2 separate regions of the Homo sapiens genome follow, and region 2 is linked to region 1. Evidence: fine-mapped expression QTL. Tissue or cell type: amygdala. Region 1 holds a variant in brackets; the other region holds the start of a gene. All regions are shown on one strand. Distances are from middle to middle.

What was found. PIP is the estimated chance that this variant, and not a neighbour inherited with it, causes the effect.
Region 2: IP6K2 starts here. The variant in region 1 is fine-mapped to the expression of IP6K2 in amygdala (GTEx, PIP 0.97).

What each region holds. Positions count from the first base shown.
Region 1 is chr3:49,107,088-49,111,867 of GRCh38, reverse strand. It overlaps USP19 (ubiquitin specific peptidase 19), which reads left to right. Exons shown (of 27, transcript NM_001199161.2): 21 at 55-368; 22 at 503-613; 23 at 702-918; 24 at 1,005-1,157; 25 at 1,264-1,424; 26 at 1,506-1,684; 27 at 3,340-3,818. The coding sequence ends at 3,456. Among named protein-coding and RNA genes, the nearest start is that of QARS1, 4.7 kb to the right of the region's middle. The variant A/C (reference allele first, on the strand shown) is at 2,645.
Region 2 is chr3:48,715,520-48,720,078 of GRCh38, reverse strand. IP6K2 (inositol hexakisphosphate kinase 2) reads left to right here and starts at 2,858. Exons shown (of 6, transcript NM_016291.4): 1 at 2,858-2,922.

The sequences.
Region 1 (4,780 bases):
GAGGTGCTAGATGGGCTGGTCAGGAGTCTTACTTGCGTTGTTCTCTGTTGCCAGGTACTCTGTGAGTGTATTCCAGCCACCCTTTCAGCCAGGCCGCATGGCCTTGGAGTCTCAGAGCCCTGGCTGCACCACACTGCTCTCCACAGGTTCCCTGGAGGCTGGGGACAGCGAGAGAGACCCCATTCAGCCACCTGAGCTCCAGCTGGTGACCCCTATGGCTGAGGGGGACACAGGGCTTCCCCGGGTGTGGGCAGCCCCTGACCGGGGTCCTGTGCCCAGCACCAGTGGAATTTCTTCTGAGATGCTGGCCAGTGGGCCCATTGAGGTTGGCTCCTTGCCAGCTGGCGAGAGGGTGTCCCGACCCGAAGGTAAGATCCAGTGAAAGGCTCTAGAAGCTGGGGAGGAGGATAAGGGAGGATGGAGGGGGCTGTTGTTTAGGGCCTGGTGGGCCTGGTGAGGCCCTGATGGGCAGGGAAGCTTTGATTATCATGTTCTCACACAGCTGCTGTGCCTGGGTACCAGCATCCAAGTGAAGCTATGAATGCCCACACACCCCAGTTCTTCATCTATAAAATTGATTCATCCAACCGAGAGCAGCGGCTAGAGGACAAAGGTGTCTGAGGCTGTGGGTGGGAGCCATGGGGTGGGTTGAGCTGGCTGTTCTCCACAGCTGCATGACCTCTCTCCCTGCGAATCTCCAGGAGACACCCCACTGGAGCTGGGTGACGACTGTAGCCTGGCTCTCGTCTGGCGGAACAATGAGCGCTTGCAGGAGTTTGTGTTGGTAGCCTCCAAGGAGCTGGAATGTGCTGAGGATCCAGGCTCTGCCGGTGAGGCTGCCCGGGCCGGCCACTTCACCCTGGACCAGTGCCTCAACCTCTTCACACGGCCTGAGGTGCTGGCACCCGAGGAGGCCTGGTGAGAACAGAGCAGCAAGTAGATAAGGGGGCAGGATGGAGAAGAGAGAGACTTGCTGGTCCTGACCCAATCTCTGTCCCCACCAGGTACTGCCCACAGTGCAAACAGCACCGTGAGGCCTCCAAGCAGCTGTTGCTATGGCGCCTGCCAAATGTTCTCATCGTGCAGCTCAAGCGCTTCTCCTTTCGTAGTTTTATCTGGCGTGACAAGATCAATGACTTGGTGGAGTTCCCTGTTAGGTAAGCAGTGGACCTTGGTAACTGTGGGTGGGGTGTGAGGACCAGGATGGGCATCCTGAGCGCCTGTTGCCTGTCTCACCCCTCCCTGACTGGACCTGACCTGCAGGAACCTGGACCTGAGCAAGTTCTGCATTGGTCAGAAAGAGGAGCAGCTGCCCAGCTACGATCTATATGCTGTCATCAACCACTATGGAGGCATGATTGGTGGCCACTACACTGCCTGTGCACGCCTGCCCAATGATCGTAGCAGTCAGCGCAGTGACGTGGGTGAGGGCACACACAGCCAGCAGGATAGGTGGTAGGGGTGGTGGTGCAGACTTTGTTCACACTCTTCCCACCCTGCTGTAGGCTGGCGCTTGTTTGATGACAGCACAGTGACAACGGTAGACGAGAGCCAGGTTGTGACGCGTTATGCCTATGTACTCTTCTACCGCCGGCGGAACTCTCCTGTGGAGAGGCCCCCCAGGGCAGGTCACTCTGAGCACCACCCAGACCTAGGCCCTGCAGCTGAGGCTGCTGCCAGCCAGGTGAGGCATGTGGGAGGCTTTACAGAATACTGGGGGACAGTTCACAGACTGGGGCCGGGTTGGGGGATATAGCTTCCTCTCCTCCAGCCACAGGCCCATTGAGCCTTGGGATTCATGAGAATTGCAGAGTTCTCTTAACATCAAAGCTTTAGCCAGAGGCATCCCCATGCCTTGGGGACACTAACAAACATACAAGTACACTAACATGCTGCCACTGGCAAGCACATTGGCACCTACTTGGCACAGGTCAGGCAACTGCTCTGAACCTCACTGGGCACTATGCTGTGAATGAACTATACCTGACACTCTCCTAGATTTCCTCTGCACATTCCCCACATGCTGGCCCACACACCCTCACTTGTGATGTCCCTGAGTTCTAGTGTGCACTCAAGACAAGGCCTATTTGGGCTGGCCATGGCCTCTGGTGGCTGTTATACTCTTTGAGGTAAGCATCTGTCTTTGCTGAGCCTTCAGGATCTTCTCTTTAGTGACATGGTGTGCCATAGGCCCAGTTAGTGGGCGTAGGCACATCTCTTTTCTGGACTGGCCGTCTCCTTTCTGGCTCCATCCTCTCTTGAGCCTTCTCTGTCAAGCTTAGAGAAATCCTTGCAGAAGACTGGTCAGGATCTGGGTATGGGTGGGAAGGAGCAAGGAGATTGCTCTGGGATTGGCAGTCCTGTTCTCTATGAATCGGTGTCCTTTGGGGAGGCCTGGACTGAAATACTAACCAGATAACTCCCCTCCCACCTCCATGCGGAGCTGCATGTGGATTGAGAGCTGTTTAGGGTAGGCCAAAATGCTGTCAAGATTCTCTTACCCTTGTGCTCTTACTCTGGACAGCCCTGAGGTTGGCTGCCTGCCTTCCTCCTTGCTGTTTGATCTAGAATGCAGGGTGTTAGCCCCAGTCACCCCAGGTGGGACTGTCATGGCTAAGGGTCTCAGGGACACTGGGTCCTCCCC[A/C]CCCCCGGGGTGCTGATGGCCGTTTCCACATACCCTAGGCTTCCCGGATTTGGCAGGAGCTGGAGGCTGAGGAGGAGCCGGTGCCTGAGGGGTCTGGGCCCCTGGGTCCCTGGGGGCCCCAAGACTGGGTGGGCCCCCTACCACGTGGCCCTACCACACCAGATGAGGGCTGCCTCCGGTACTTTGTCCTGGGCACCGTGGCGGCTTTGGTGGCCCTCGTGCTCAACGTGTTCTATCCTCTGGTATCCCAGAGTCGCTGGAGATGAGCTCGCCTGCAGGCAGCTGCTGTGAGCTGGCCTACCTGCCTGCCCCAGGCCATGCCTGCCTTTGTTGTGGGGAACACCTCTGGGCTTTGGGCCTCAGCTTATGCATCTGGTGGGAGAGGGTGGGGAGGTTGTGGCCCCTGCAGGGGCAGAGTATCCTAGGGTGTGTATCCATCTGGCTGTCTGTCCATTCATCCTGCTGCTCTGACCCTTGGCCTCAGGCTTGGCCCTGCCCAAGCTACTTCCTGTACTTAAAAGTGTTAATAAAACCAGACTATTCAGGCCCAATCTCGTCTCTCTGTCTCAACGCCGCTGCTGTCTGCGCCTGCCTTGGGACCCTCCCTTGGGTGCCAGGGCTCCAAGCCAGCACCCCCGGGATGCCAGGCGGCATGCTGGGCAGCCCCCAACCCCTGTCCTCGTATTCTGTTGCAGGGACTAGGCCCTGGCCAGGCCCCCGAGGTGGCCCCCACGCGGACAGCCCCTGAACGCTTCGCCCCCCCTGTGGATCGGCCAGCCCCCACCTACAGCAACATGGAGGAGGTGGATTAGCAGGTCCCTGGCTGATGGGGGGGACTGGGTTTGGGACACCCACACAGAGGGCCAGCTCCTTGCCGCTTCTCCTTCTCTAACCCAGAGGACACTGGCTCTGTCAATGGGAAGCTGAGGGGTATGATTTGGGTGTGGAGACCTCTCAGGTTGGGACTTCTTGTCAGCTTGGACCCCTGACCAGTGGGCTTTGGCTTCTCCAGCCGCCTCCAGTGCTGCGTGATTTGATTCTGTTGTACCTTCAATTCTTCTGACCCGCATTATAAACATTATAATTTTATTCTAAAAATTGTAATTTTTTTTGCATTTTGGAAGTGACTGCTGCTGTTTAAATATATTTTAAAAATAAATAATAAGTAAGTAGACTTAGTGACTGTGATCCACCACATGCTGGGGCCACCTCCCCTCCCCATCATTTGCGGTGTGTATGTGTGTGTATGTGTGTTTATATATGAGAGACCCTGAAAGTGCCCTAGTCTGAAGGGAGATGATGGGGTCCCAGCTCATGTCCTATGGGTCATGAAGCCCCCAGTGCTATCAGCTTTTTGGAGCCTACCTGCTGCTCTTTCATCCCACTGGTTCTGGATCCTACATAAGAGGCAGCTTGGTAGGCATCGTCAGGATCTCAATATAGCCAAGGGACAGAGGAGTATATGAAGCACTGGAGCTGACAGCGTGGAGTAAAAGGTGCATTCACCAGAGCAGCCTGGGGCTGACAAGTCAGGGAGGACTTGGGGGACAGAAGTACTGGGAGATCTTCCTCCTCCTCTCCTGTCCTCAGCTTTTTCTTTGCTGTAACTTGAACACTAACTGCATCCCTGCAGGTAACAGAGCAGGAGGAAAACTGCTGTGGGGCAGATCTTGCTGCCCTGAAAAGAGGACAAGCAGAGAGGACCAGAGTGAATCTTGTCTGACTTCTATTGGAGGGAGGGTGCTGGGGCCTGCCAGCCTGAAGAGTCTTCCCTTAAGAGTTCCTGAAGCCTTCCTTCTTTGGCCAGGCATGGTGGCTCACACTTGTAATCCCCGCACTTTGAGAGGCCGAGGCGAGTGGGTCATGAGGTCAGGAGTTCGAGACCAGCCTGGCCAAGATGGTGAAACCCCGTCTCTACTAAAAATACAAAAATTAGGTGCAGTGGCGGGCACCTGTAATCCCAGCTACTTGGGAGGCTGAGGCAGGAGAATCGCTTGAACCTGGGAGGCGGAGGTTGCAGGGAGCCGAGATCGCGCCACTGCACTCTAGCCTGGGCGACAGAGCAAGACTCCGTCTCAAAAAAAAAAAAAAAAAAAAAAGTTGCTGAAACTGGCCAAGTGTGGTGGCTTATGCCTG
Region 2 (4,559 bases), 390 kb after region 1:
CACAGAGTTTTCTTCATGTCATGAAAGTTTTCTTCTGTAGTTTGACTAGCTGGTGCCTCCATTTCAGCTGTCCCTTTTTCTCCTTTTAGGACTCCTGCTGTCTGCACATCAGAATTCTTGGACTTGCCCCCCAGATCTGTGGTCTATTCCTTCATCGTTTTCAGCTCTGTGCATCTTTCCCTTAAGTTCTGAGCTATTTCTTCCATTAGACCCAAGTGGCTTTTTCATATTCCCTCAAAATATCAAACTTCTTCTTTCCTCGGGGTCTTTGTACTTGCTGTGCTTTTGTCAGAAATGGCTTCCTCTAGATCTTTCCATGCTCAGCCAGTGCCTTTGGGCTGATCTTAGCTCAGATGTTCCCTTCTCAGATCTACCTCTCCTGCTGCCTTAGACATAAACACCATACTCTGCACTTTTGCTTGGTTCCTTTTCTCCATTGTAGTCACTCTGCCTATAATTATGTTATTTGTTCTTTTACTGTCTGTTGCCTCTCACCCACCTCCGGACAAATAAATCATTTGAATTCTTGCTGTGTTTATTCACGCTGCATCCCTGGTGTCTAATCTAAGTCAGACCTTGATAAGCACTTGTGAAAGGAATGGAAGAGTGAATTAATGCTAGGGCGGCCCCAAGGTGGTAACTGCTATGAAGCGGCCGGGTACGGTGCCTAATGCCTGTTATCCCAGCACTTTGGGAGGTCAAGGAGTGTGTATCACTTGAGGCCAAGAGTTTGAGACCAGCCTGGCCTGGATAACATGGTGAAACCCCGTCTCTATTGAAGAATAGAAAAATTAGCCGGGTGTGGTGGCACACGCCTGTAATCCCAGCTACTTGGGAGGCTGAGGCATGAGAATCGCTTCAACCCTGGAAGCGGAGGTTGCAATGTCATAGCACTGCAGCCTGGGTGACAGAGCAAGATTATGTCTCAAAAAAAAAAAATTCTGAGAAGGTGGTAACTGCTATGGAAACATATAGAGCCAGGATGAGGGGATAAAGGTGGTACTGAGTGCTGGGGGCAGAGTGGGGCAGGTTACAGTCTGAAATGAGGGGCTCTGAGAGCTGGGGTGCAGCTCTTTGGAAATCTGTGCAATCCAGGCATGGGAACAACCATAACTCATACACTGTGCAGGAGAGTGCATGGGGTGTGATGTGTGAGGAACACTGGGAGATTGAGCAGCAAGGCCAAAAGCTGGCCGGGGAGATACAGTCGGGGGGGTGATAGGGAATTATGAAGGTCCTGATGTCTCTGGTTTTCCCTTGGGGAGGAAGTACTCCAGGGTTCTGAGCAGGGAATGGGAGGATCTGACTCATGTATTCACAGGCTGATGTGTGCAGAACAGACTGAAGGCATCAGGGGCAGCAAGAGGAGACCAGGAGGCAGCTGTGACATTGCACTCAAGAGAAATGGTGGCAGTTTGGACTCAGTGAAAGGTATGGAGGTGGCAAGAAGTGATTTCATTCTGGGTAGATGATGCTGATGGAGACAGCAGACCTTCCTGGTGCACTGAATATAGATGGGAAAGAGAGTAGTCAAGGGGTACTTTGAGGTGTTTGACTTGAGCAATAAGAAGGGCTGAGATGCTATCACTCAATTTGGGGAAAGTGGGGTGAAGTAGGTTTGGCGGATGAGCCAGTGTTAGGGTAGCACAAGTTGCGTTTGAGATGCCAGCAACTGGAAGTCAGAGTGCAGATGTCTAGTTGACAGTGGGACTAGTGAATCTGCCACTCAGGAAGGGTCTGGACTGGACAAACACTTTTAGGAGTGATTGACATGTAGGTGGCATTTGAAGTCATGAGCCTGGATAAGATTTTGGAAGAGTGAGTGTAGACAAAGAGAAAACACACAGATGAGAAACTGGTGAGACTGGAGGAAACCAGGAGGACATGGAGCCCTGGAAACCACATGCTAAGGTGAGAGGAGCTGCTCACAGAAGTCTCTCCTATCCACTGTTATAAGGTCAGGGATATTTATTTATTTTCCTTTTTTGTTCACTGCTGTATTTCCAATACCGAGTGTAAGTGCTTAATAAATACTTGTTGAATTAAAAAGTGTATGAGTGAATTTACACCTTTGCAAATGCCCAGTACACAGGGCTGCAACATTGTTCTCCTTTACAGAAAGAGCAGAGATCAGGTAGGAGGCTCTGCCCATTCTCAGTGGCACTAACCCTCTCCTTTGCCTTTCACAGCTATGCTGACATTCACTCAGGTGAGAGCCCTTCTGTCCAACACAGGCCCAAGACAAATGAGCCTCAGACAAGCCCTGTGGTGTGGTGCTTGGTGGGAGCTGGGTTGGGCACTGGGTCATCCACCAGTCCCCAGAAAACTCTATGGCCACTTCTCTGTCCACCCTTCCATATCTAATAATCTGTCTGTCTGTATCTATAACCATTTCTTTGTCCACCGTCTACAGGCACTCTTTTGTCCCTCTTTCCGTCTATTCACATCCAGTCTTCTGTCCATCTGCTAGAGTGACCAACTTCCCAGTTTGTAGTGGACTGTCTCTGTGTTAGCATTGAAATTCCTGCATCCTGCGAAATCGCTCACTACTGAACAAACCAAGACTGTTGGTCAATCCATCTGTTTCCCAGGTATCCTGCTGTCCATCGGCCCGCAGCTAGTCTATCCACCCAACCGCCCGTCAGACCTCCGGCCCACCCTCCCAGACGGAGGACAATGCTCCGCCCTCTCTGGCCCCGCCCCCAGTCACCGCCTTTTCCGGAAGCTGCTGCAGCGAATCCTGGCACCCTAGCAACAGCGCCTTTCAGGCTGTCCAGTCCGCGTGCGCAGCTCCTAGGACGAGCCAATAGTGAGGGGCACCGGGAGCGAGGTGCAGGGGGCGGGGCTCGGCCTGGCCGCAGCCATTTTGGTGCGAGAGAAACAATAGGACGGAAACGCCGAGGAACCCGGCTGAGGCGGCAGGTAAAGCTCGCGTCCTATGGCCCTAGTGCCCGAGGAGCTTTGAGGGAGATTTTTTCAGGCTACTGGGAAACGGGATCTCTGATCATTGGAGTCTCCCAGGTTATTTGGGAAAGACTTCTTCCGTGGTCATTGTGGGGGAAATCTCCCGGGGTCCCTGTGGATTCGATTTCCCTGGGTCATTTGGGAGGAGGGTTTTTCTTCTGATCATTGGGGGAGGGATTTCCGTGGTTTTGGGGGTCCAGCATCCTCCCCGGTCATTGGAGGGGGTCTCCCGGGTTTGGGGGAGGGCAGGATCTTTCCTGGTCATTGAGATCTCCCCGGGTCTTGGGAAGCGCAAGATCTACGGTGTCATTGAGGGGTCTCCCCAGGTCATTGGCGGCCACGATCTCCCCAGATATTTGGCGGGTGGAGGGGTCTTCCCGGATCTTTGGATAGGGAGTCAGCTCAGCGCCTCAGGTACTGTTACCTGGGGTCGGCAGATGTGCAGCCATTTTGAGTGTTGAATGCCATTTGGGCCCGTCAGATGGTGTTCGATGAGGGAATCTACACACTTAACCTTATTATAGAAAAAATGCCTTTAAATGGATAAGAGGACACCTTTATAGTGATATTTCCACTCTTTACGTTTGATTACAGACCGCTTTTGTCTTTTGCATCCTAATGGCTTATTTCATTTTAGGATTGTATTCGTTCTCATATATCAACTAAGCTACACTAGCAGAAAAGTGAGTGAAAATAAAATGTAGAAACCAGTAAAATCCAGTGCTCTTAAATACCAGGGAAAACAGAACTAGTCACTGCTTGGAATTAAACATTTCCGTAGCAGAATGTACACAGAACAAAAAATCATCTTGAATAGTTTTAAGAAAAAGTACTGGCACTTTGGAACGTGGTAACAAAAATGTTGTAGATCATCGGTTCTATGATATTTTTAATAGAGGACCATGATTACAGTAATTTTGTTGAATTCTAGTGTTTAAAATGTTTGCTGTATTTGCAGTTGTAGCCAGGTAATATTTTAAGTGAACTAAGATGCTTATTTATATAGGTTGTTGCTGTGGGGTTTGTATAATTGCATCGTGTAACTTGGGTGTTAAGTATTTAAAGAGAAGCTTCAGGGTGTTGTTTTAACTTTAGCCACTATCAGAGTTAGAAAGGGCCAAATGAATACTTTATCACATTTGACATAATAGGCAAATTGATGGCCTAGTAACTTTTTTTTTTTTTGAGAAAAAGTTAAACTGTTAACTGTCATTTAAAATTTTTTTTCTATTTTCTGTGGTCTTGTCTGACATTGTCATTTCGATAGATTTACCTGCTTTGTGACTTTAGAATTCACAGGCATTGTTAGAAATCAAATGGAGAATCACTTGAGCCCAGCAGTTCAAGATCAACCTGGGCAACATAGCAACACCCTGTCTCTACAAAAAAAAAAAAAAAAAGAGAGAGAGAGAAAGAAATGAAATGGATAAGAACACTGACTAGAGTTAATACAATTGTAGAAACTAGCTTTTTGTTTGTTTGGTTTGTTTTTTATGCAGGGCCTGGGTAGGGAGGGAGCAAGGCAGGGACCTGGGAGATCTAGAAATCAGTGTAACAGATATAATAGATTTCTTTTGTGTTTCAAAGCTTCCTAG